Regions from separate parts of the Homo sapiens genome. Here regions 1, 2, 3, 4, 6 and 7 are each reported to be linked to region 5. The links are microRNA targets in miRTarBase. Many come from high-throughput screens and were not tested one by one. Region 5 holds a microRNA gene; each other region holds the end of a gene's coding sequence.
Evidence for each region. The annotated mature microRNA hsa-miR-6855-5p reads UUGGGGUUUGGGGUGCAGACAUUGC and lies in region 5 at 2,218-2,242, opposite strand. An mRNA with a match to its seed (bases 2 to 7 or 8) in the 3' UTR can be bound and repressed. Matches are read on the target gene's strand: a 7mer-m8 pairs with bases 2 to 8, a 7mer-A1 pairs with bases 2 to 7 and ends in A, and an 8mer does both.

Region 1 (3,096 bases), not on the chromosome of region 5:
GCCAAGAGTGGGCGTCTTTAAAAATTCCATATGAATTATTCCTCCTGGCTCTGGGGCTACTAAAAGCAACTTTACTAGTCATCAGAATGTGTCTGGGATCAATGTCACCCAGTGACGGGAACAGGAAGGCAGGCCAGCCTGATGCTGGCTGTGCAAGGTTTGAGTGTGTGAGCCCACCATGCTCCGGAAGTCCTCCCCACCCTACCCCTACCCACAGGCATATTTTCATATGGTTCCCTATCGTAAGCGAGTTCCTTCGTCACCTACCACTTCCCAGCTCTGTTCCCTGGACCCAGAGCCTTTTTTCTTTTTTGAGATGGGGCCTTGCTGTGTTACCCAGGCTGGTCATGAACCCCTGGGCTTAAGTGACCCTCCTACCTCAGCCTCCTGTGTAGCTAGGACTACAAGCAAGTGCCATCATACCTGGCCAGAGCCCTTTTTTGTTGTTGTTTTCTTAGCCTAAACTGTATCTTGCAGCTTCTCTGAGTCTTTTCAGAGCCAGGCCTATCCTTTTACACTCATTGTACCCACCTGTGTTTTCACTCCATCTCCATCTCCTGAGTGGCAGCAGCTGTCTTCTTCCTGGGGCATCTGCACTTCCTTCTGCACTCAGGATCTGCCACTTGCTCTGACACTTTCTGTGTCCCTCTGTCATAACCTCCCATTTGCAATACATAGTGGGGAGCTTCTGTTTCAGATTGTGAGGAGGAAAGAACAGTCCTCAAGATGCCCTTTCGGTCTCGGTTATTAGATCAATCTCTATCTTTATTTTCTGTCTCAGAACCCTTCATCTCAATGTGCCCCACAAGTAATGCAGACCAAATTAGGGGAAGGCAGGACACAAAGCTCTGAGACATGTCAGGAAGGGATGGGGACGGGCCAGTCAGTGTCCTGTACAGCAAATGCTCAATGCTCCTTACGGCATTTTTAATTAGTCAGAATTCTGAAACCTGGTATAGACTGAGCCTATCTTCATGGATTGTTTCACCTCAAACCATCACACAGTTCTTACATCTGAGAACTTTCTCCTTAGAATTATCACCTTAGTGTGATCTGAAGAGCAAGTTCCCCTCAAATTTGACCTACTTAGACCTCGCTTGCAAAACCCCATGCTGGAGGAAAGGCAGCGTGCCTGCTTCTTGGCTCTCAACCGTGACAAATCCTAGGTTACCTTGGAAATGAGGCAGAAAACTGCAAAGAGCACCTGACCAACTAAGCAGAAAGGAGGCCAAAGAAAGCCCAACTTCATTTATAAAATAACCAACATGACTTGATCTCATACAATGAAATAGAAACTGAGGAACAACTGTGGTTGTATAATCTTTGATTGTATAATCTTTCTAAAAACAAGTCCTTTATGTTGTAAAACACTAGCTATTAATTAACGTGGGAAAATGCTCAAACTAAAGAGGTATATGTCCTAATAGTATTTACAAACAGCTCCCTTTTGGGAATGTAATTCTTCCTCGGTCCTGTATTTTGTATAGTTCTGACTCTTTGCCCTCATGATTCTGACATATTGCAGGACTAGGCCCTGGGTTTGTTTCATCGTCACTCTTATTTTATGTCAATTACATTTTAATGTTATTATTGTATATTTAAATGCATATAACCATCTGATTATGCCTTATTATAAAGTGTTTTGTCATCATCACTCTTTTTAAAATAAGTACCAGAAACATACCTTTAATAACACAGGGTTTTAAAAACAGAAAATGAGAACCAGAAGACAAAGTGTATTTTGATAGTACGCTTAGTTTTTTTTTTTGTTTGTTTGTTTGTTTGAGACGGAGTCTCGCTCTGTCGCCCAGGCTGGAGTTCAATGGCGTGATCTCGGCTCACTGCAACCTCTGCTTCCCGGGTTCAAGCAATTCTCCTGCCTCAGCCTCCCGAGTATCTGAGATTACACGTGCACAACACCATGCCCGGCTAATTTTTTGTATTTTTAGTAGAGATGGGGTTTCACCGTATTAGCCAGGATGGTCTCGATCTATCTCCTGACCTCATGATCCACCCGCTTTGGCCTCCCAAAGTGCTGGGATTACATGCGTGAGCCACCGCGCCCAGCCAACAGTAAGCCTAGTTTTATTCATTTTTTAAAAAAAGATCTAAAAAATCAAGCTTAAGTGGCATTTTACATTTTATGTTTTCAGTTATTTAATAGTTTTAACAATTACTTTACACAGAACCCCCAAATTGTCCACAAACACCATAGGTACCTCATTTTGAAAAGGATATTTTTGATAAAGATGACTAGCTAAGAAATAAAGCAAGAAAAGCAACACCCAAAATGTGTGCCCCTAGCTCATTCTGGAGGTATTTAGTGGACAGTCTCTCTTGAATCCTAAGCAGGCTGGTCATGCTTGGCCCAGAATTCCCAAATAATGATTTGCGTCTGAAATTTCCCATAAGGTTTTGCAATGTTCCACTCATACCTATGACAGTCCAGAACAATACTAATCCAGAAGCATTTTTAGGTAATTGAGAGTACATTTTTTAAACACAATCTATGCACAATACAGTGATTAGGCATATTAGGGGTAAAGAGCTTTACAAAACATTGCTGAAACATAATTGCGAGTCTGAATCAAATCAAAAAGACCACAGAAATATTCAGTATTGTATCTTAGTTTCTGTTAAGTACTTTCAAAATGTATTTAATACTAAAAGTAATTAGTAGAAGAGAATTTGAATTCTTGATTTTTGTTCTGAAAATTTTTACTCTCGATATATTAAACAAACATGGAAAACTTCTGTATTAAAGTCTTCCACATGTAAACCATTTGTCATTCATTCATATATTTTTCTACTTTACTTCTTTACCAAAAATCGTGTGATGTCTGATCCATGCTTTGATGCTAGAGATTGTCTTCTCACCTGGCTTCTTTCCTTAGCTTGTCTGGCAGTTCTCTAAAAGTTAAAAAATATGCATGTGTACACGTTAGGAAAAAAGCACCGGCTACAAAAGCTCAAAAACTCTTTATATTGTTAGTTTGGAAAATCTACAGTCACTACACCCATTTTCCAGTGGTTGGCTATGGAAGAGTTACCAAACCACAAGGCAGAGTATCTCAGCAGCTCTGAGATCCTGAGGTC
Region 2 (3,000 bases), not on the chromosome of region 5:
ACCCTATGAATGTGAAGAGTGTGGAAAGGCCTTTAGACTGCTCTCACAACTTACTCAGCATCAAAGTATTCACACTGGTGAGAAACCTTATGAATGTAAGGAATGTAGAAAACCTTTTAGACTGCTCTCACAACTTACCCAACATCAGAGTATTCACACTGGTGAGAAACCTTATGAATGTAAGGAATGTGGTAAGGCTTTTAGACTTTATTCATTTCTTACTCAACACCAGAGAATTCATACTGGTGAGAAGCCCTACAAGTGTAAGGAGTGTAAGAAGGCCTTTAGACAGCATTCACACCTTACTCAGCATCAGAAGATTCATAATGGAATTTAATAGAAGAAAGCCTTCAAATGTATATGATGTTACAGAACATCAGAAAATTCATTTTTGAGAAAATGTGTTTCATGCTCAATTCCAAGCATAATAAATTTTATATTAGAGAAAGAATATGTTGATTTAAAAGCCTTCCAACACCATTTAAACATGGTTTATCTTCAGCAAATTCCTATGAGAGAATAATGTAATGAATGTAGGAAAATCTTTAGCCTTATCTGTCATTATCTCCCTTTCTCCACTTGATTACCAGTTTGATTTATTGGACAAGATACTAAGCTTCTGTGCCTCATTTTGCTGACTTGTAAAATGGTAATAATAGTACTTATATGTATTAGTTATTTATTGCTGCGTAATAAATTACCACAGACTTAGTAGCATAAAATAACATATAATTATATCTTATAATTTGGATCAGGAGTATAGGCATGACTTAGTTGGGTCCTCTGCTTCAGGGTCTCTTGCAAGGCTACAGATTTCAGCCAGGGCTGAGGTCTCATCTGAAGGCTCAACTGGGGAAGGATCCACATCCAGACTAACATAGTTGTTACCCAATGTATTTCCGTGAGGCCTGTTGCATTGAGATTCTCAGTTTCTAGCTGGCTGTTGGCTGAACGCTGACTGCAGCTCCTGGCCACAATAGCCTCATCAACATGGCTGCTTGCTTCATCAAGGCATGCAAGCCAAAAGGGAGGACAGTCTGCTAGCAAGATGGAAGTTACCATCTTGTGTAATCTAATCATGGAAGTAACATTCCCTCACCTTCTACTGGTAGAAGTAAGTTACTAGGATAGTCCACACTCAAGAGAACGGGATGATACAAGAGTGTGAATAAGTCCTGGAGACAGGACCACTGGGGGGCCTGTTTAGAGTCAGCCTGCCACACTGTGGAATAGGATTGTTGCAAGGAGTAAGTAGTTAATACTTGGAGGAATCACAGTCATATAGCATGTATTCTGTAAATATTATCTGTAATTGTTATTATTGTCATTAGTATTAGTGAATTCACGTAAAAGGAAGATCTGTAGACATAATAAATGTAGAAATGCCTCCTGTCACCTCTCAGAAATTATTAAACATAATTTATTCTAGGTAAAATTTAGATTGTAGTGAATGTAGGAAGTTCTTCAGCACTTGAGCTGCATTAGAAATTTCATGCCAAAAATGAATTTCATGAATGTGAGGTCACTAGTAATACAGCTGTTGAAGAATTAGAGGGAAATAGGAAATGATTTTCCCATAATTCCAGAAAGCAAAAGGCTTACAATCCCTGTTGTCTGACCACAGTTTAAAATTAATTAGAAACTATCAAAAATGTGGCTTAAAAGAAATTAACCACCTAGGAATTTAATATTGTTGTGTATATTTATGTGTGTGTATAAAACTCCTGTGGGAAAGAAACAAAACATCATTCTATAAGTCAGTATACTTTTGGATGCTCAAAATGCCATATCTTCAACCAGTAGGAGTTGTTTCAAGTTGAGTTTTTGATGTGATCCCACCAATAATTTGATAGTTTACTTGATTGTGGCTGCATAATTTGGTAACCTATGAAAGATGCTAGAGCACCAATGTATAATTTTTTTGAGACAGGGTGTCACTTTGTCCCCCAGGCTGGAGTGCAGTGGTACAAGCACAGTTCACTGTACCCTGTTCCTCCTGGGCTCAAGTGATTCTTCCACCTAAATTTTTTTTTTTTTTTTAGAGAAAGGGTCTCACTATGTTGCCCAGGCTGGTCTTGAACTTCTGGGCTCAAGTGATCCTCCCTCCTTGGCCTCCAAAGGTGCTGGGGTTACAGGTATGAGCCACCACACCCAGCCCAACTCATTATTCTTGAAATCAATAAATCAGAGGAAAAATTGTCATTTAGTTTCCTTTTCCCATGTGAACCAAATTTCAGGGTCACCAGAAGTTCATCAAATTCAAATGAATTTGGCCTGGCACAGGGGTCACACCTGTAATCCCAGCACTTTGGGAGGACAAGGTGGGTGGATCACTTGAGGCCAGGAGTTTGAGACCAACCTGGTTAACATGGTGAAACCCTGTCTGTACTAAAAATACAAAATTTAGCCAGGCATGGTGGCACACACCTGTAGTCCCAGGCTGAGGTGGGAGGATCACTTGAACCCAAGAGGCAGAGTTTGCAGTGAGCTGAGATCGTGCCACTGCACTCCAGCCTGGGTGACAGAGTGAGACCCTGTCTCAAAAAAAAAATTTGTTTTTTGAATGGGTTTTTCTTTTTTGAAGAAGTCTAATAAATCTAGAAGGAATTAGAGGATTAGAAAAATCACCATTTTCTAGACCTTAATGGAATAATGGGTCCAGAAAACATGATCTTCAATGGGTACTACAACTAATAGGTGAAATATTTTATAGCGAGATTTTTATGGTGGATCTATCAAACTGGCCACCTCTGAACCCTTTGATCTGTTTTAACCTTAATAAAAATGGGTCTATCAGACAACACACTTCCTGACGTAATGCAATAGGAAGTCCACACCACCATCTACAAAGCCTTATTGCTGGAATAATGAACTGAAAGCAGACAGGGACTAGATGAACAGTATATGGTCATCCCTTGGTATCCATGGGGAATTGGTTCCAGGATCCTCCACTGATGGTAAAATCTGAGGATGCTCAAGTCCCTTGTATAAAATGGCATA
Region 3 (3,096 bases), not on the chromosome of region 5:
AGCATTGAATCTGTCGTCGAAGACCTGGCCAAGATGAATCTGGAAAACCGGCCTCCCCGCTCCTCCAAAGCCCACAGAAAGAGAGAAAGAATGGAGTCCGAGGAGAGGGAGCGCCAGGAGAGCATCTTCCAGGCTGAGATGTCGGAGCACCTGGCCGGCTTCAAGCGCGAGGAGGAGGAGAAGCTCGCCGCCATCCTGGGAGCCAGGGGTCTGGAGATGAAAGCGATCCCGGCCGACGGCCACTGCATGTACCGCGCCATCCAAGACCAGCTGGTGTTCAGCGTGTCTGTGGAGATGCTGCGCTGCCGCACCGCCAGCTACATGAAGAAGCACGTCGACGAGTTCCTGCCCTTCTTCAGCAACCCCGAGACCAGCGACTCCTTCGGCTACGACGACTTCATGATCTACTGCGACAACATCGTGCGCACCACGGCATGGGGAGGCCAGCTGGAGCTGAGGGCCCTGTCGCACGTCCTGAAGACCCCCATCGAGGTGATCCAGGCCGACTCGCCCACCTTGATCATCGGGGAGGAGTACGTCAAGAAGCCGATCATCCTGGTCTACCTGCGCTATGCCTACAGCCTCGGCGAGCACTACAACTCCGTGACACCGCTCGAGGCCGGCGCCGCCGGGGGCGTGCTCCCGCGTCTCCTGTAGGCCCCAAGGCGCTGAGCAGCCCCGGGAAACTGTCGCCGTCGCCGCATCTCCTCAGTAGGCTCAGTTTATTTTCCCCTTTTGCTTTTCTCTGTTTTTCTTTTCCTTCCTTTTAATCAAAACTACCCGCCCCCGCCCCGCCCCCGCTTTCCTAACCTTGCTGCTTTCACAGGGTGGGAAACGAAATTCGAGGGAAATTCCCCGGAAATATGAGGGAAATCTCTGCATTGCACCACCAGAGGGGCATAAATTTGAAAGTTCTAACCTCTTCTTGCCCTTAAGGGTCTTTTACCTCCCTCACCAACTAAGATTTGGTCATGTTGCGTATAACTTCACCACAAAAATGGAAATATTGGCCGGGCGCGGTGGCTCACGCCTGTAATCCCAGCACTTTGGGAGGCCGAGGCGGGCGGATCACGAGGTCAGGAGTTCGAGACCAGCCTGGCCAACATGGTGAAACCCCACCTCTACAAAAAATACAAAAATTAGCCGGGCGTGGTGGCAGGCACCTGTAGTCCCAGATACTCGGGAGGCTAAGGCAGGAGAATCGCTTGACGGGAAGCGGAGGTTGCAGTGAGCCGAGATCGTGCCTTTGCACTCCAGCGTGGAAGACAGTGAGACTCCGTCTCAAAAAAATGAAAAATTAGCCAGGCAGGTTGGCGGGGGCCTGTAATCCTAGCTACTTGGGGTGCTGAGGCAGGAGAATCAACTGAACCCGGGAGGCGGAGGCTGCAGTGGGCCGGGATCGTACTACTGCACTCCAGCATGGAAGACAGCGAGACTCCGTCTCCAAAAAAAAAAAAAGAAAAAAAGGAAATGTTAAGTTTCATGTGTTCTGGGAAAAATAAATCTAGTAGACTAGCTCGGGGAGTCTTCAGGTTTTCCTATGAATGTCTTGGATTACTTAGACAAAATTGGAGTTTATGTGATCAAAATGCCTTGTGAAGGCCTTTTGCTGAGTTTTGGGGGGAAAGATTGCCATGGTTTGCTATTTACTTAAGCTAGACTACTCAGGAGATGTCTCAAGTTATGAACAAGAGATCCGCTAGTACTTTGTTTTGTTTTCTTTTCATCAAAACTTGTGTGGTTCCTAATTAATTTTAGTTTCTCCCATGTTTGCTAATTCTAAATAACAGCATTTGTTAAAACATGTAAGGTAAATCTGTTAAATAGATAAAGTAAATTTAGATAAACTGATAGGCTAGATAAGGTTTACTCTAAGATGTGAAAGATCTGAACTTAATTTCCTTTACTAAAGGTAGGAAGAGATAGGACTTTATTCAAATAGTTGATACGTTTCATTATCTTTACAACTGGTATAAAGAAAAAAGAGACACATTGATAGGTAATTTACTTACTCTAAGGGGTGAAGATCTGAATCGAGTAAGTTTCCTTTATTCTTAGAGATATAAAGGTGTATGAATTTATTCAAGTACTTGATTGACCTTGTTATATCATCTGGTATGAAGTGTGAAAGATATGAATGTAACAACTTTCCTTATTTCTTAGAGATACAGAAATATCTAAAAAGATTCTTTAAAATATTAAAGTTTTATTCTATTTTGTTACATCAAAAGTGAACAATATACTTTTGTTATTTGAGACTTGTTAATATCCTTGAATTTTCCAAAAGAATATAAAATGAAATGATTTACAGTCAACAACTTATGAAAATTTTAATCTTTACTTTCTGTAATTCAGTGAGATTAATTTTGGAAATTCTTTCTACATTCCAAATGCTCTAAGATAAAATATATATGTTTTTGAAAGTTTTTAAACATGTAGTTTGTTCAAAAATAAAAACCATTTAAAAAATACCTGCTTCTCTGTTTTTGTGTAGCTAACTTCATATAGAGTTTATATCCCAGGATCTACTTAAGCAAAGGAATCCTGGAGGGTTAGGGAGCATAGGCCTGTTGCGGGTGGCGGGGTGGTGGTTGCTGACTGGGGACAGGGGCAAAGACTGCTGAAGGGCTCTAGAAATGGGAAAGGTGCTCTACTTCAGTGGGCTGCATAGGGTCAGGGAAGGGGGTGACAAGCTAAAAGAAGAGGCCTGGCTAGGGTAGGGGACCTTCATGGACAAAGAGGCCCAGCTGGGTAGCGGGGGCACAGGCTAGGAAAGAAGTCCTGGCTGAGGGAGGATGCCTGCAAAGGGTCCAGGCTGGAGGCTGGGGCATGGACTGGTGAAGGGTTCCTGGTAGGAGAAGGTGGCCCAGCTGGGGCAGGCTGGAGAAGGAGAGGAAGGGGGCCTGGCTTGGGAAGGGAAGCTGTTTGGGAACTGGGCTACAGTCTGGGGAAGGGGTCCTGGCAGGGGTGGAGTTGGGTGGAGAGAAGGGCAGGAAAGGGGGCTGGGTCAAGAAAGAGTCACTGTCTATACAAGGAGGAATAGGCTGACCAGGGGGCAACTCAAAGGGACAAGATGCCTCGTAGCAACGGGTCTTT
Region 4 (3,093 bases), not on the chromosome of region 5:
GACCGTTAACACTCAAATTTAGTTGACAGGCTACAATGGGATTCAGAAAAGGACACAGTGAATATAGACTTAGGTGCAAGTTCATGCTGGTGATTTTTCTTTTTTAAAATGTAAGCCACTAATATTTTAAGACAAAAATTTAAACCAAAAATTGCATATTAATATTATACACAAACTGAAACATGTGACTTTTAGCACAGTGTATACATGCTTACATAAACTCAAACACATTTAAAACAATTTCCATTTAACATATGAAAGTTTTGAAATACATAAAAGCATTAATACTTTCTATAAAACTACAGTTAGAACATCAATTTGCTACAAGCATATAAAAACATCAAGTGCTTTCTTGGAGTTTCAAGTTTCCTCTCTAAAACACAATCTTGCTCACATATATAGTCCTTTTCCAATAATCAGTATGAACTTTTCTTTTTCTCAAGAGGTTTATTTTCCAGGTACATTATAAGCTCAAGAAAAAAGACCCAACAATTAGGCAATATAATTATGTCATAACAACTTAATTGCACATAATGCTTTAAAGTAGGTTTGGATGAAGTTCTCAAACACTTTGGTATATGATCTTCAGGGACTTTAATTAGAAACAACAGAAATTATAAGTCCCTTCAATCCCCATTTTGCTTTAAAAGGGACAAGTCTTTGGTTAAAGTTCTACATTTTGGGCATTTATTTTTAATTAAGATGGTCCCCAAACCAATAAATGGTACTGATCTATTACAAATTCACAAGACTTCATTTAACCTGCTTCTGATGCAGTGGGAGGTTACAGATACTCATTTACTATAATATGTCATTGGATAGTTTCAATCTTTCATTTATAAGCAGAGAAATCAATAGGTTTATTACTTCTCTGTCAGTTTTCTGTTATAACCTAAACTGTACAGTAATTTGCAGTAACTACAGATACTGTTCCACAGTATATATAATTATGACTGATAAGATGTAGAGCATTAAATTTAGAGTTAGCTTATTCTGATAAGTCAATATTAGACTGTTCATTAACTCTGCATTAACTATAGAAAGGTTGTTAGTTAATGCTTATTTAAAAACCCCAAACCATTCCATTTACAAGAGAAATTGTTGCAAATGTATAAAACAGCAGATATACAAGGAGAACACCAAACATACTTTATTAGCACAAAAAAAGCAGCCATAACAAGGCACAGCAAGCAGAAACATACATTAGCAGTCAAAAGGTTAGTGTTGCATACAAATATAGCTTTCCTTTTTTGTAGCCTTGGCAATAGCCATAGGGATGTAAAATAACATTCTGTAGCAGCAGGTAAGGAAACTATGGAGCACTCACCAGTGGTACAGAGCACATTAACGAAAAGACATGAGAGTGGATTCGGCTACTTTAGTGCAAAATGTCTAGGACAGAACTGTAAATTCAGTTCAGTTACTAAGAAGCAAACACTAGAACTTGATATAACTTCCAAAAGCGCTCACTCAAGTAGTAGTACATATTATTCTAAGTGACAAAAAGGTGCTAAGTTATTTACAGATATAATGGTTGTACAGTACCTTTTAAATCTGCAATTTAGGTTTCAGATTTTCCATTAAGAATGAACTGCACTGAAATTCTATAAATTATACTTAAGCAATTCAGTTATGAGAGTTTACAAAAAAGAGATAAATTCTGCCATCCAAATTATTAATTATAGTTCAACAATAATCTCAACATCAGCAACCATTGTAGTTACTATTATCTGACTTGTTTGGGCGTCTTCTAGTCTCACGTACTTCACGGTTCACAAAATCATCCTGGGCATAGGAACAGATCCAACTTTTATGAAACAACAATTAGACTGCACATCAACTTAAAAAAAAATCACACACAAGACTACATTGCAGCAGCTATTCCAAACGCCTGTTTTAAGTTAAAGCACTCATTTAAAAAATTAATACCTAGGCCTTTCAATAAAATTCTACTACTAGCTTTGTAAGTCTGAAATTTTAAGAATGCCTATTTAGAAAATCTGGTTTACTTAACAGTACCTTTTGCAGAAGAGAAAAGGCGTCTGATTATAAACTACATCAACACGTAAGTGAACTGCACTATGCCCTTGTGGCCAGAAAATTGCATTTTTTTCTAAAAGGAAGGCAGTCTTTTATTCTTTTTGGACTTCCAAAGCTTGATTTATAGTAACTACAAACATCACGACTTTTGGAAGGTTATAGAAAAACTCTTAGAAAAAATAATTTCAAACATTAGTCACACTGTTGAAATACTCATCCAATATTAATAATTTGTTCTTCAGTAAGAAATAGAATTCTTCATAACAAATGCCCCAGAGTTGCCTCACTCAAATACCACAGCCATTAAAAACCAAACTGTTAGCGAAATAGGCAAAATGTTTTTGTAGTCTTACTGAACACCTGTAGCTCTATCCGCTATTGTTCCAATAGGCACCATGTTTATCTGAATAAGTAACAGCAGGTAGCATCTGACAGATACTAACACTAAGCTTACATACTGTATGAAAAAGCCTAACACTGCTACGTGTGCTTGCTATAGGTGTACTGTCTGATGCACATGAAAGCGGACCTAGTTAACAACCTTTGGGGACCGGAGAGTTTACTTTGCCTTGACTGGTTCTCGTTCCAACCAGCGAACTCTAACTTTTTGTTTATAATGATACTCTTTTAAAAAATCCTGTAACATTGAGGGTAGAGGGAGCCCATCAATTCCATCATACGTAGTGCACCTGCAGATTACCGCGCGACAGATATACTGCAGGCTAAAAGGGAAAGTCCTATTTAGTGATATAGTAAGCAATGGTTCAAAAAACATGCACGAACTGGGATCTTTATAATGTTCTAAAAGTCCCGTTACAGTGGAGGAGTGAAATACACACGGGTCATGGGCGTCGAAACTAAAGTTGTGATTCCACTGCTCAATTCGGGCATGCAGGGATCTGTTGTAGCGGCGGAAGCTCACAGAGAAGAGGTAGTCCTCTTGCGCAGAGTCCCTGAGCAAAAACGTGCCTTCAGGTTTCCCTTCGAGAAGGGCTTCTGCTTCATAACGGTCCATCACTCCCCAGTAACAGGGATTCCCTGTAATTTGAAGCA
Region 5 (3,096 bases):
CCAGCTACTCGGGAGGCTGAGGCAGGAGAATCGCTTAAACCCAGGAGGTGGAGGTTGCAATAAGCCGAGATCATGCCATTGCACTCCAGCCTGGGCGTCAAGAGAGAGACTCCGTCTCAAAAACAAAACAAAACAAAACAAAAAAAACGCACAATGAGATACCACCTCATACCCATGAGGTTGACTCCCATCAAAAAAGTAAACAAAATGAGTGTGGACGACGATGTGGAGAAACTGGAACTCTTGTGCGTCACTGGTGGGAATGTGAAATGGGGTGGCCACTGTGGAACCCAGTACGGTGGCTCCTCGAGAAATTAAAAATAGGCATAGACCCAAAGGGATGAAAGAAGAGAGGTGTGCACACCCATGGTCAGAGCAGCATTCCTCACAATAGCTAACAGGGAAGCGGCCTGAGTGTCCACTGACGGATGAACGAATAAGCAGAAAGGCCCCAGCCATCCACACAATGGAACAATAAATAACCAGCATACAAAAGGCAGGGCATTCCGACACACACGCTGCAACGTGGATGAACCCTAAGGACGTTATGCTCAGTAAAAGCCGTCAGTCACAAAATGGCAAGTACTGTATAATTCCACTTCTATGAGGCCTTTAGAGTAGTCACATTCACAGACTTGAATGTGGAGGTTGCCAGGGGCTGGGAGGTGGGAGTAGGGAGCTGTTTCACGGATACTGAGTTTCAGGTTTGCAAGATGTAAAAGTTCTGGAGATGAATGGGGAGGATGGCTGCGTGACCATGTGCATGTATTTAACACTACTCGACTGTGCACTTTCTGTTAAAAACAGCATTTACAATGGTTATGGTGGTAAATTTTACATTTTGTGTATTTTATCGCAATTGAAAATTGGAAATAAAAAAAAAAGAGAGAGTTTTCCCAAAGGTTTAGATGCCAAATAGCCAACGGAGAAAAAGAACAAGAACAGGAATGGGCAATGTTTAAATAAATACATAGAGCCAGTATATTTAACAAAAAATGTAGAAACTCATCAGTAATCAAGGAAATGAAAAATTAACATACATCATTTTTGCCCACCAAATTGGTAAAAATAAAAATAAGTGAACACTCAAGAGCTGCAAGATGATGGGGTTGGGATAGCACATGGCCCTGGTCCAGCGTGGCTGGCAGTGGGCGTGGGTATCTGATGGGATCAACCTTGGAAGCCAAGTCTAGCCTGGCTGTGCATCCCACAAGCCCTGGGCTGCATGCTGGCCTGCTGGGGTCTGCACATCCCCGTCCCCACAACCCTCCACCTCCCCGACCCTTGCCAGCCAGGCCCCTCACCCTTTAACTCATCAGCGGCAAAGAAGGCAGCAAGGCAGTCTTCCAGGGTGACGACAGGCCCCCAAAACCAGCTGGGGGTACAGGATACCACAAACCTACAGACAGAAAAGGAGTGCAGGGGTGCTGCCAGGGCCTGGGCAAGAACAGGAGCTGAAGGGACTCTGGCTGAGGTCTGTCAGGCCTGAGCCGCAGAAGGACCCTGAAGGCCCAGAGAAGCAGCCGGGCACGGCGGGTCGGGGCAGAGGCCTGGAGCCAGACACGTCCGTGTCCTGGGCCGAGTGACATCATCTCTCCGCAAGCCTGGCCTCCTTCATCTGTGTTGCGGCCATGATCATGCTACCCCCTCCCTGGGGTCATGCGGGTCTCTGGCCTCAGGCAGGAGAGGCAGCCCTGGGAAAGCTGCTGCCCTTCCCGCCAACCAGGCCTGTGTCCTGCTGCTGCCCTCCCTTCAACCTGCCATGTGGTCACCTCCCTGCTGTCCATCGCCCTCCAGCTCCAAGGGACTATCCAATCCTGGCCACTTCAAAGTAGCCAAGAAATCCCCTGCATATTAAGCCAACTCCTCTGCAGGCTTCGGCCCCCAGCTCCTCCCAGGACCTCCCTGGTTCCCCAAATGCATGGACTTCACTGTGTACTGTCTCCCGCCCAGGAAAACCAGGACAGGCCCAGCCCATGTCGCCCAGTAGTGGCAAGGTGGGCGCACCGTCGGATGTACTCCACAATGAAGGCCAGCCAGCCCTGGGCGGCATAGCTGTCCCCACAGGCGCCTGGCTTGGCCGGCACATTCTGGTAGATGGCTGAATGGAGCTTGGCCAGGTCCTCCTTTCCAGGAATGGGCAGTGATAAGTCCTGGAACGTTTCCACTGTGGTGGATACCTGTGGGGTTGAAGGTCAGTCTGCTGCCCATCCTCTGGCAATGTCTGCACCCCAAACCCCAAGCAGCAGGTGAGGGGCAGAGGGACTACTCCCCAGGCCATAGACACGGGATCCACGCAGGCAGGGCCCTCCCCTGGATAAAAGCAGGGAGCACCCGTGGAGAGCCCACCCTGCACCCAGTCAGGGCAAGAGCTGCTGAGGCCACTGGCAGCCTGGCCCAGCTCCCCCCATCCCTGGGGCACCCACCCGGTCACAGGTGAGACACTGCACAAGGCTGAGAATGGAGCCGTCAAAGATGTCTGAGATGACGCTGCGGTAGCGCTGCTCCTTCCGCCTCCGGCTGCCAGCACTCAATACCTGGGCTGGGGACACAGCACAGGACTAGCCCAGCCTCCACCTGCCTGGCCGGGGCGAGGTGCGGGCCCTGCGGCTTCCTTTGACAGGATGTGGAGTGACATCCGTGAGTCACATGACTGGGTAAGCAATTCACCATCTCATGCCTCTGTGTCATCCTCTGCAAAACGTGGCTCCCACACTGGTGTCTCAGGGGTGTACCTGAGAGGAGCCCATAGCCCGGCCCTCCGCCACAGGGGGCCATGAGAAAGGCAGCTACGGGCGTAATCTGTACTCCCAGCCTCAAGCTGACCCACCCTCCCGTGCCCCCCGAACCTTTCTTGAGCACGTACGACGGTGCCATCCTCACGGGGCTTGCACGAGGGGGGCTGCTAGACAGCTTGGCATGGCCCTCGTGGTGGTGGACGGGGCTGCAGGGGCGAGAGGAGCTGCGTAGGTGAGCATCATTGTCCGGCTCTGGGGGCAGAGAGGGTACCATGCTGGGCCAGGGCAGCCAGGCCAGCTCCACGAGTGGGCAGGAAGATGACCTGCCAGCCCCTCCTAAAGGGACGAAAGCCTGACC
Region 6 (3,096 bases), not on the chromosome of region 5:
ACTGGCAGTCGGGATTAAGACCGAGAAGTAAGGGTGGCTTAGGGAATAGAGCTGTATTTATTTAAGGACTAGGCAAAGATCCAAACCACTTTAAAAAATTTTAAATCAAACACTTTATTTCCACATAACAAGCGCAAAAAACTCCCAAACACTTTAACAATACAATTAACGCAGTTATGAATTATATACTACTCAAAGCCCCAAGGTCAGAAGGTCAATCAGCTTAACGCTCCAAACATTTCCAGACATGGTTTTTCAAAGCTACCTTTGGTTTTTGGAAAAACCAGTATGGAAGTCAATATACATTGAACGCACTGAATAACATTTGCTTATAGTAAGGTGTCCGACAACATTAGCTCACACCTGGCAAGTTGGAGCATGATCTGAAGTCATACACTGAAATCCATACACAGGTTTCGCCCCCGAGCTCCTGCAGGGAGAAGCGAGGGCCGTGAAGGGGGAAGAAAAGGCCAGTCCGGGTGTGGCGTTTCTCGCTTTGTAACAGAGGTATGAGAGTTTAACACTAGTACACTGTCAAGTCATTAAGCTTCATGTTCCACATGGTTTCTTGCTGAGGCTTGAGATGGGCACAAATGGTGGGGAAGATGAAGTCACAGAAGAGTTTTGAGCAACAAGATCCCAAAGATGCTCAGAGAGGGTGGGAAGGAGCAAGCTACAGTTTCCCATTGTTCTCACATTATTTCAGGGTGAAATTGTGATGAGTTCAGATAAAATGTTCAAATATTTGCTTAGATTTTTAATCGGTTGCTCTATGAGAACCCTCATACATAGCAACTTTGAAACTTTCATTATAAAAAAGAGCCTACAAATAAATTCACAAAAAGGAGACAATTAATGTTGAGCAGCCAAAAAGTCATGGTTTATTATATCTGAAGAAATTTCATAATTCAAACACAACCAAACTGTACATTTTACAATCACATTCTATTTGTAAACAGTTAAAAGCCACTGACTTCTTTTGCATCTTAGGACACAAACAGTTAGAATCAAGGCAATGATATGATGGCAAATTCTGTACTGTTAAAATTTTTACCCTTGTTTAGTCTCTCTTCTTTGACTAAGCAAGCATTATAATACCATTTGTGGGCAAAAAAAGGGGGGAGGAAAGAAAGTTTAAAATGGTGTAACTCGTTAGTTTGCAACAACATTTAAAATTTTCTTTATACAACAAACAACTCTGTAAGCCCAATACCTTGGTTACAGTATGCATAGTTACTGATTTCGGCTTTAAGGTACAACAGTTAAACATTAACACAGTCACGAGAGAGCAGAAACATATGGAGCCACTTGATGGGATTACAAAAAATTATTACCTATTGATTATTAGCAAACCATCATCACTCACTAATAAAAAGACAGCATCTGAAAGCAGAATGTCAAACTCCAGCTTTAAGCGTTTTTTTGTTTTTTCTTTTTTTTTGGCAGAGAAAATTCTTTAACAGAGCAATATGTAGTATCAGTGCTAAAAGTTGGGGTTTTTCTTTTTTTCCTCTAAGAAACTACAAGGAATTTTTTTTTTTTTTTTTAAACTGGGGAACTGGTTTTCCTGAGAACCATGCTCTTTGATTTGGGACAGGAATAGAAAAACAAAAGAACATGGCCAAATGCTGCTCCTTTTTCCCAGAGATAGAAAGCATCTTTTAAATCATCCTCCATTTTTTTTTTGTCTTTTACATTTTTTTTAAATGATGGAAGAGTAAACATTTTTTTTTCTCAAAAAACAAACAAAAAAATCTGTAAACAAGAAGGTTCAAAGTGAGAACCTCCAAAACAAAATGGAAAGCCTATTCAAAGTGCAGGGCCCGTCCTGGGTGGCAGGTGGGCTGCAAGTCACAGCTGTGGCCACAGTTTTTCAAACTGCAGAGCGAAATTCTTTAGTTTTACAACATGAAAAAACTGGTGCAACACTTTCATTAATAATCCTAAGTCAGCATCCTAACTTGATCTTTTAAACTCCACGATACCACAATAAGGTAGGCAACATCAAGGCATAGTAGAGAGCGCACGCCTCCTAAGAACACCCTTGAGTAAACATTGACACTGGGACAGCTGCCCCCCATACTGCCGATGAGACGGAGAGAACATCATTCAGTGCAAAGGGAAAAGCTCATACGTTATCAGCCCAAAAAATGGTTTTGCAAGAGAGAAAAAAAGGGGCGGGGGGGGGGGTTGGGGAGGAATAGAAGGAAAAAAAAAAAAAGAATCCAAAGGCTAAACATGATGAATAGACACAAGCGAGCTCATTCTCTACGGTTTAGCATGTATGGCGCTATTTGGGAGTGTAAATAGAGTAGATACCTTTTCACATTATAATATTGGCCTGCATGATTCAAGTATTCAAACTGATATGTTTTGGGGAAAACAAAGTGGAAAATGTGCAGAGAATAGCTGTTCCCACAGGCGGCCCCTGGCTGCAGGCGGCGAGCCCCACTTAGTGCTCCTTTCCCTCGCGTCTGAGGTCCCGGTCGGTGAGTCTGCATCTACACTGTTACATGGACTCTCCACCCCCACCCAGGTGGTCAACAGAAAGAAAAGCGTTAATGGGAGATGGGCTGCTAATTCCTCGGGGGTCGCTGCTGCTTGGGGGACCCCACAGGCTTGTGGAATAATGCGGGGTCCCCCAGAGTGAAGTGCCGTGAAGGTCTCCACAGTTAGTTCCCGACAGCCCAGCACCATTCCAGTGATTGAGATCGGTCCGGCTGGAGAATGAGTGGGAACAGTCGAGGGAGCCCAGCCGGCTCTGGCTGGACCCGAGAGACTGCCAGCCGGGAGAAGGGGTCAGAGACTGGCTTTGTGCAAAGAAACGACTGATCTCCTCTTCACTGGCAAACTCAGCAAGAATAGTAGTGTTCCCCAGTACACACCTAGAGGAGAGAGGCACCGCGGACACGTGAGGACAGCACACCAGGAGGGCTTCATTCACTCACAAGTGAGGGTGCAACTTGTCTCTGCTAGAAAAGCCACAGAAGGCACAGAGGGAGAGACTACACCACATAACCTGCGTGCCCTCCCTTCACCCGAGTGTGCACCCACAGCTCTCCAGGGCCTGGTGCCTTGCCCAGAGCGAACTTCCTC
Region 7 (3,096 bases), not on the chromosome of region 5:
ACACAAAACACCCTCTTTTAAGAACAATTGTTATTTAAAATTTAGAATCTTTAAATTAGGAGACCAGTCTTGCTTTTCATATAGTAGATAGTATAAGCAAAATTTCCAGTTGTTTTCATTATCAGTAATTGGTAATTAAATGACCAATAATAGAAGTTTTAGCTGAATTCTCTTCAGTTATTTGATTTGCTATATTTAATGATAAAGGGTTAAGTGGATCATATATGTTTTTATATAATCTGAAATGAGAATGCTATTAATTCTAATTAGAGTCAAGGATGCCACCTTAGATATCAACTGAAATAAAATATCCCTGGAAGATTTATCTTAAAACTGGATATTTTACTATTTTAAATTTTAGGGGGAAATGAGTGTCCTTGCATTTAATTCTAATTTTAGTGATGTTAATTATTCTCTTTTTTTTTTTTCTTTCAGAACTGGTCCCTAGGAAAGACCTTCTTGTAGAAAATGTGCCATATTGTGATGCACCAACTCAGAAGCAATGAGTTTTCTAGAATACAACAAGTCTTTGTACTTTTTAACTTTAAAATCTACAACTCTGGCAAAAGTCCTGGAAATGCAGACATTTTCCCTGAACTGGCATATTGAAAATGAATGAATTACAGAATAGCTTCATATTTAAATTTCATGTTAAAAGGTCATTACTGAGAACTAAAGAACATAATTAAGTATTTCTAAAGGAAATTAGATAAGAAAACATTTCATTTTCATTGAAAATCAAATTTCATAAAGCAAAGTAAATGCTTAGGGAGATATATTCAATCTTTGACCTTGATGAGTATTTGATCTTACCATAGCTATTTGAGAATGTGGTGCTTTTACAAATTGGTGAGTTTTCCTGCCATGTGAAATGCAATTATTACATTTAAATTGTTAGATTAAAATGATATTTAGTCCTGAAAAATATTAAATTGGTCAAAAAAATCACAGTGTATGCCAGCTCTCTACAGAAAGTGGCCTTTGTTTTCTAAAGCACTGGGATTATTTCTGTAGCTAATATATAATTGTACAGTTTCTTTTTAGAGATAGAGAGTATCTCTGTGTTCTTATGAAGACATTTTTTATCAGTTTTCTGAAAATAGATGAATAAAATATTATAGTCACCTAGGGTCACTATGGAATAAAGAAATCCTAGTTTAAAGAGGAAATAGTGGCCCTTGATCAAACTATTTAATATGGCCTTAGTAGAATTAGCTGTATTTAGACAAAGTTAGACTTTAGTGTGAAATGTAATCGGTGGCTACATTCTCATCGTTTTAATTAATGAAACTTAAATGGCTTCTCTTCTTCCACATGTCCTGTCCTTGACAAGATGGGCAGTATCACAAAAGGTCCTGGCATTCTACCATCTAACACTAGGAACTGTAAAATACTGTTTAATATTCTTCTTGTTTCTCTTTTATCTGTGTATCTTTGCCATTCTATTTTCTCAGTGAATAGTATGTTTTCTCCCATTCACTGATAAATTCTCTCATTTGATGATGATACAGGGTTTTTAATTTTTGCAAGATTCTCAATGCAAGCATTGTTATGTATCTAGAAATTATACCTAGAGAAAAATGAAAGTCGTTTCAAATTTGAAATTTGCCCTTTTAAGAGAATGCTGAATGTCATCGCAGTATATAATCACTATATAAATGTGCTGACTTACAGTTATTTTAGTGTCTATATGACATATTTTGAGGAAAGTTGGCTGACGTTATTTAAATTTAATATATATTCTATATTTTAGTGTTATTGAATATTTTATCACTGAGCTTTTTTCTTTAACCTGAATTCCCTGTTCCATTTTTCATTCATATTAATTTAAATAACTCCAGATTTCTTTCTTATAGTCATTATTAGTAGCAGATGAGATTAATAATTCACATGTTTATTAAAGATAGTGGCTTAGAAATTTTAAGATATATTGATATAGGCCCGGGCGCTGTGGCTCACACCTGTAATCCCGCACTTTGGGAGGCTGAGGCGGGCAGATCACAAGGTCAGGAGTTCGAGACCAGCCTGGCCAATGTGGTGAAACCCCATCTCTACTAAAAACACAAAAATTAGCCAGGTATGGTGGCGGGCGCCTGTAGTCCCAGCTACTCGGGAGGCTGAGGCAGGAAAATCACTTGAACCCGGGAGGTGGAGGTTGCAGTGAACTGAGATTGTGCCACTGCACTCCAGCCTGGGGGACAGAGTGAGACTCTGTCTCAAAAAAAAAAAAGAAAAAAAAAGGAAAAAGGAAAAAAAAAAGATATATTGATACAGATAGGTAGATATGATATTGTACTTTCATGCCATAAGACTACACAATAAAGTTCCTGAAAGTTCCTGGCTGGGCGCAGTGGCTCACGCCTGTAATCCCAGCACTTTGGGAGGCCGAGGCAGGCAGATCACCTGAGGTCAGGAGTTCTAGACCAGCCTGACCAACATGGGGAAACCCTGTCTCTACTAAAAAAAATACAGAATTAGCCAGGTGTGGTGGCACATGTCTGTAATCCCAGCTACTCGGGAGACTGAGGCAGGAGAATTGCTTGAACCCAGGAGACGGAGGTTGCAGTGAGCCGAGATCGCACCATTGCACTCCAGCCTAGGCAACAAGAGTGAAACTCCGTCTCAAAAATAAATAAATAAATAAAGTTCCTGTGAAGTATATAAACATGTCAACAACAGGCTTGACTGTCACAAAATTCTGAAAGATGTCGCACTCTATTCTTATATAGCATATGCTAATTTATTTATTTATTTTTTGAGATTGAGTTCTGCTGTGTCACCCAGGTTGGAGTGCAGTGGCATGGTCATGGTCCACTAAAGCCTTGACCCCTGGGGCTCAGCAGTTATGCCAACTAAGCCTCCCAAATAGCTGAGACTAGAGGTATGCGCCACCACACCTAGCTATTTTTTTTATTTTTAGTAAGGACAAGGTCTCATTATGTTGGCCAGGCTGGTCTCAAATTCCTGAGCTCAGTTGATCCTCCCACCTCAGCCTCCCAAAGTGCTGGGATTACAGGTGTAAGCCACTGCACCCTGCCTATTCTTATAATCATATATTTATATTTCAAATGGATTTTAACTGGTTATTTAATAGTT

Region 1: miRTarBase lists ZRANB3 as a target of hsa-miR-6855-5p. Seed matches in the 3' UTR shown: 7mer-m8 at 1,956-1,962.
Region 2: miRTarBase lists ZFP14 as a target of hsa-miR-6855-5p. The part of its 3' UTR that is shown has no 7-base or 8-base seed match.
Region 3: miRTarBase lists OTUD6A as a target of hsa-miR-6855-5p. Seed matches in the 3' UTR shown: 7mer-m8 at 1,112-1,118.
Region 4: miRTarBase lists SOCS5 as a target of hsa-miR-6855-5p. The part of its 3' UTR that is shown has no 7-base or 8-base seed match.
Region 6: miRTarBase lists TNRC6A as a target of hsa-miR-6855-5p. Seed matches in the 3' UTR shown: 8mer at 1,491-1,498.
Region 7: miRTarBase lists LYRM7 as a target of hsa-miR-6855-5p. Seed matches in the 3' UTR shown: 7mer-m8 at 2,042-2,048.

Annotation. Positions count from the first base shown.
Region 1 is chr2:135,197,531-135,200,626 of GRCh38, forward strand. It overlaps ZRANB3 (zinc finger RANBP2-type containing 3), which reads right to left. Exons shown (of 21, transcript NM_032143.4): 21 at 1-2,910. The coding sequence ends at 2,812. Among named protein-coding and RNA genes, the nearest start is that of SNORA40B, 62 kb to the left of the region's middle.
Region 2 is chr19:36,337,561-36,340,560 of GRCh38, reverse strand. It overlaps ZFP14 (ZFP14 zinc finger protein), which reads left to right. Exons shown (of 5, transcript NM_020917.3): 5 at 1-3,000. The coding sequence ends at 337. Among named protein-coding and RNA genes, the nearest start is that of LINC00665, 7.3 kb to the right of the region's middle.
Region 3 is chrX:70,062,735-70,065,830 of GRCh38, forward strand. OTUD6A (OTU deubiquitinase 6A) reads left to right here. Exons shown (of 1, transcript NM_207320.3): 1 at 1-1,445. The coding sequence ends at 657. Among named protein-coding and RNA genes, the nearest start is that of OTUD6A, 1.8 kb to the left of the region's middle.
Region 4 is chr2:46,759,648-46,762,740 of GRCh38, reverse strand. SOCS5 (suppressor of cytokine signaling 5) reads right to left here. Exons shown (of 2, transcript NM_144949.3): 2 at 1-3,093. The coding sequence ends at 2,600. Among named protein-coding and RNA genes, the nearest start is that of LINC01118, 55 kb to the left of the region's middle.
Region 5 is chr9:129,868,756-129,871,851 of GRCh38, reverse strand. It overlaps MIR6855 (microRNA 6855), which reads right to left and starts at 2,247; the gene lies at 2,181-2,247. USP20 (ubiquitin specific peptidase 20) reads right to left here. Exons shown (of 26, transcript NM_001110303.4): 12 at 2,850-2,990; 13 at 2,427-2,542; 14 at 2,008-2,180; 15 at 1,305-1,399. RefSeq lists an enhancer at 1,133-1,632.
Region 6 is chr16:24,823,221-24,826,316 of GRCh38, reverse strand. It overlaps TNRC6A (trinucleotide repeat containing adaptor 6A), which reads right to left. Exons shown (of 25, transcript NM_014494.4): 25 at 99-2,885. The coding sequence ends at 2,510. Among named protein-coding and RNA genes, the nearest start is that of SLC5A11, 21 kb to the left of the region's middle. RefSeq lists an enhancer at 3,005-3,096.
Region 7 is chr5:131,199,096-131,202,191 of GRCh38, forward strand. It overlaps LYRM7 (LYR motif containing 7), which reads left to right. Exons shown (of 5, transcript NM_181705.4): 5 at 436-3,096. The coding sequence ends at 506. Among named protein-coding and RNA genes, the nearest start is that of LYRM7, 30 kb to the left of the region's middle.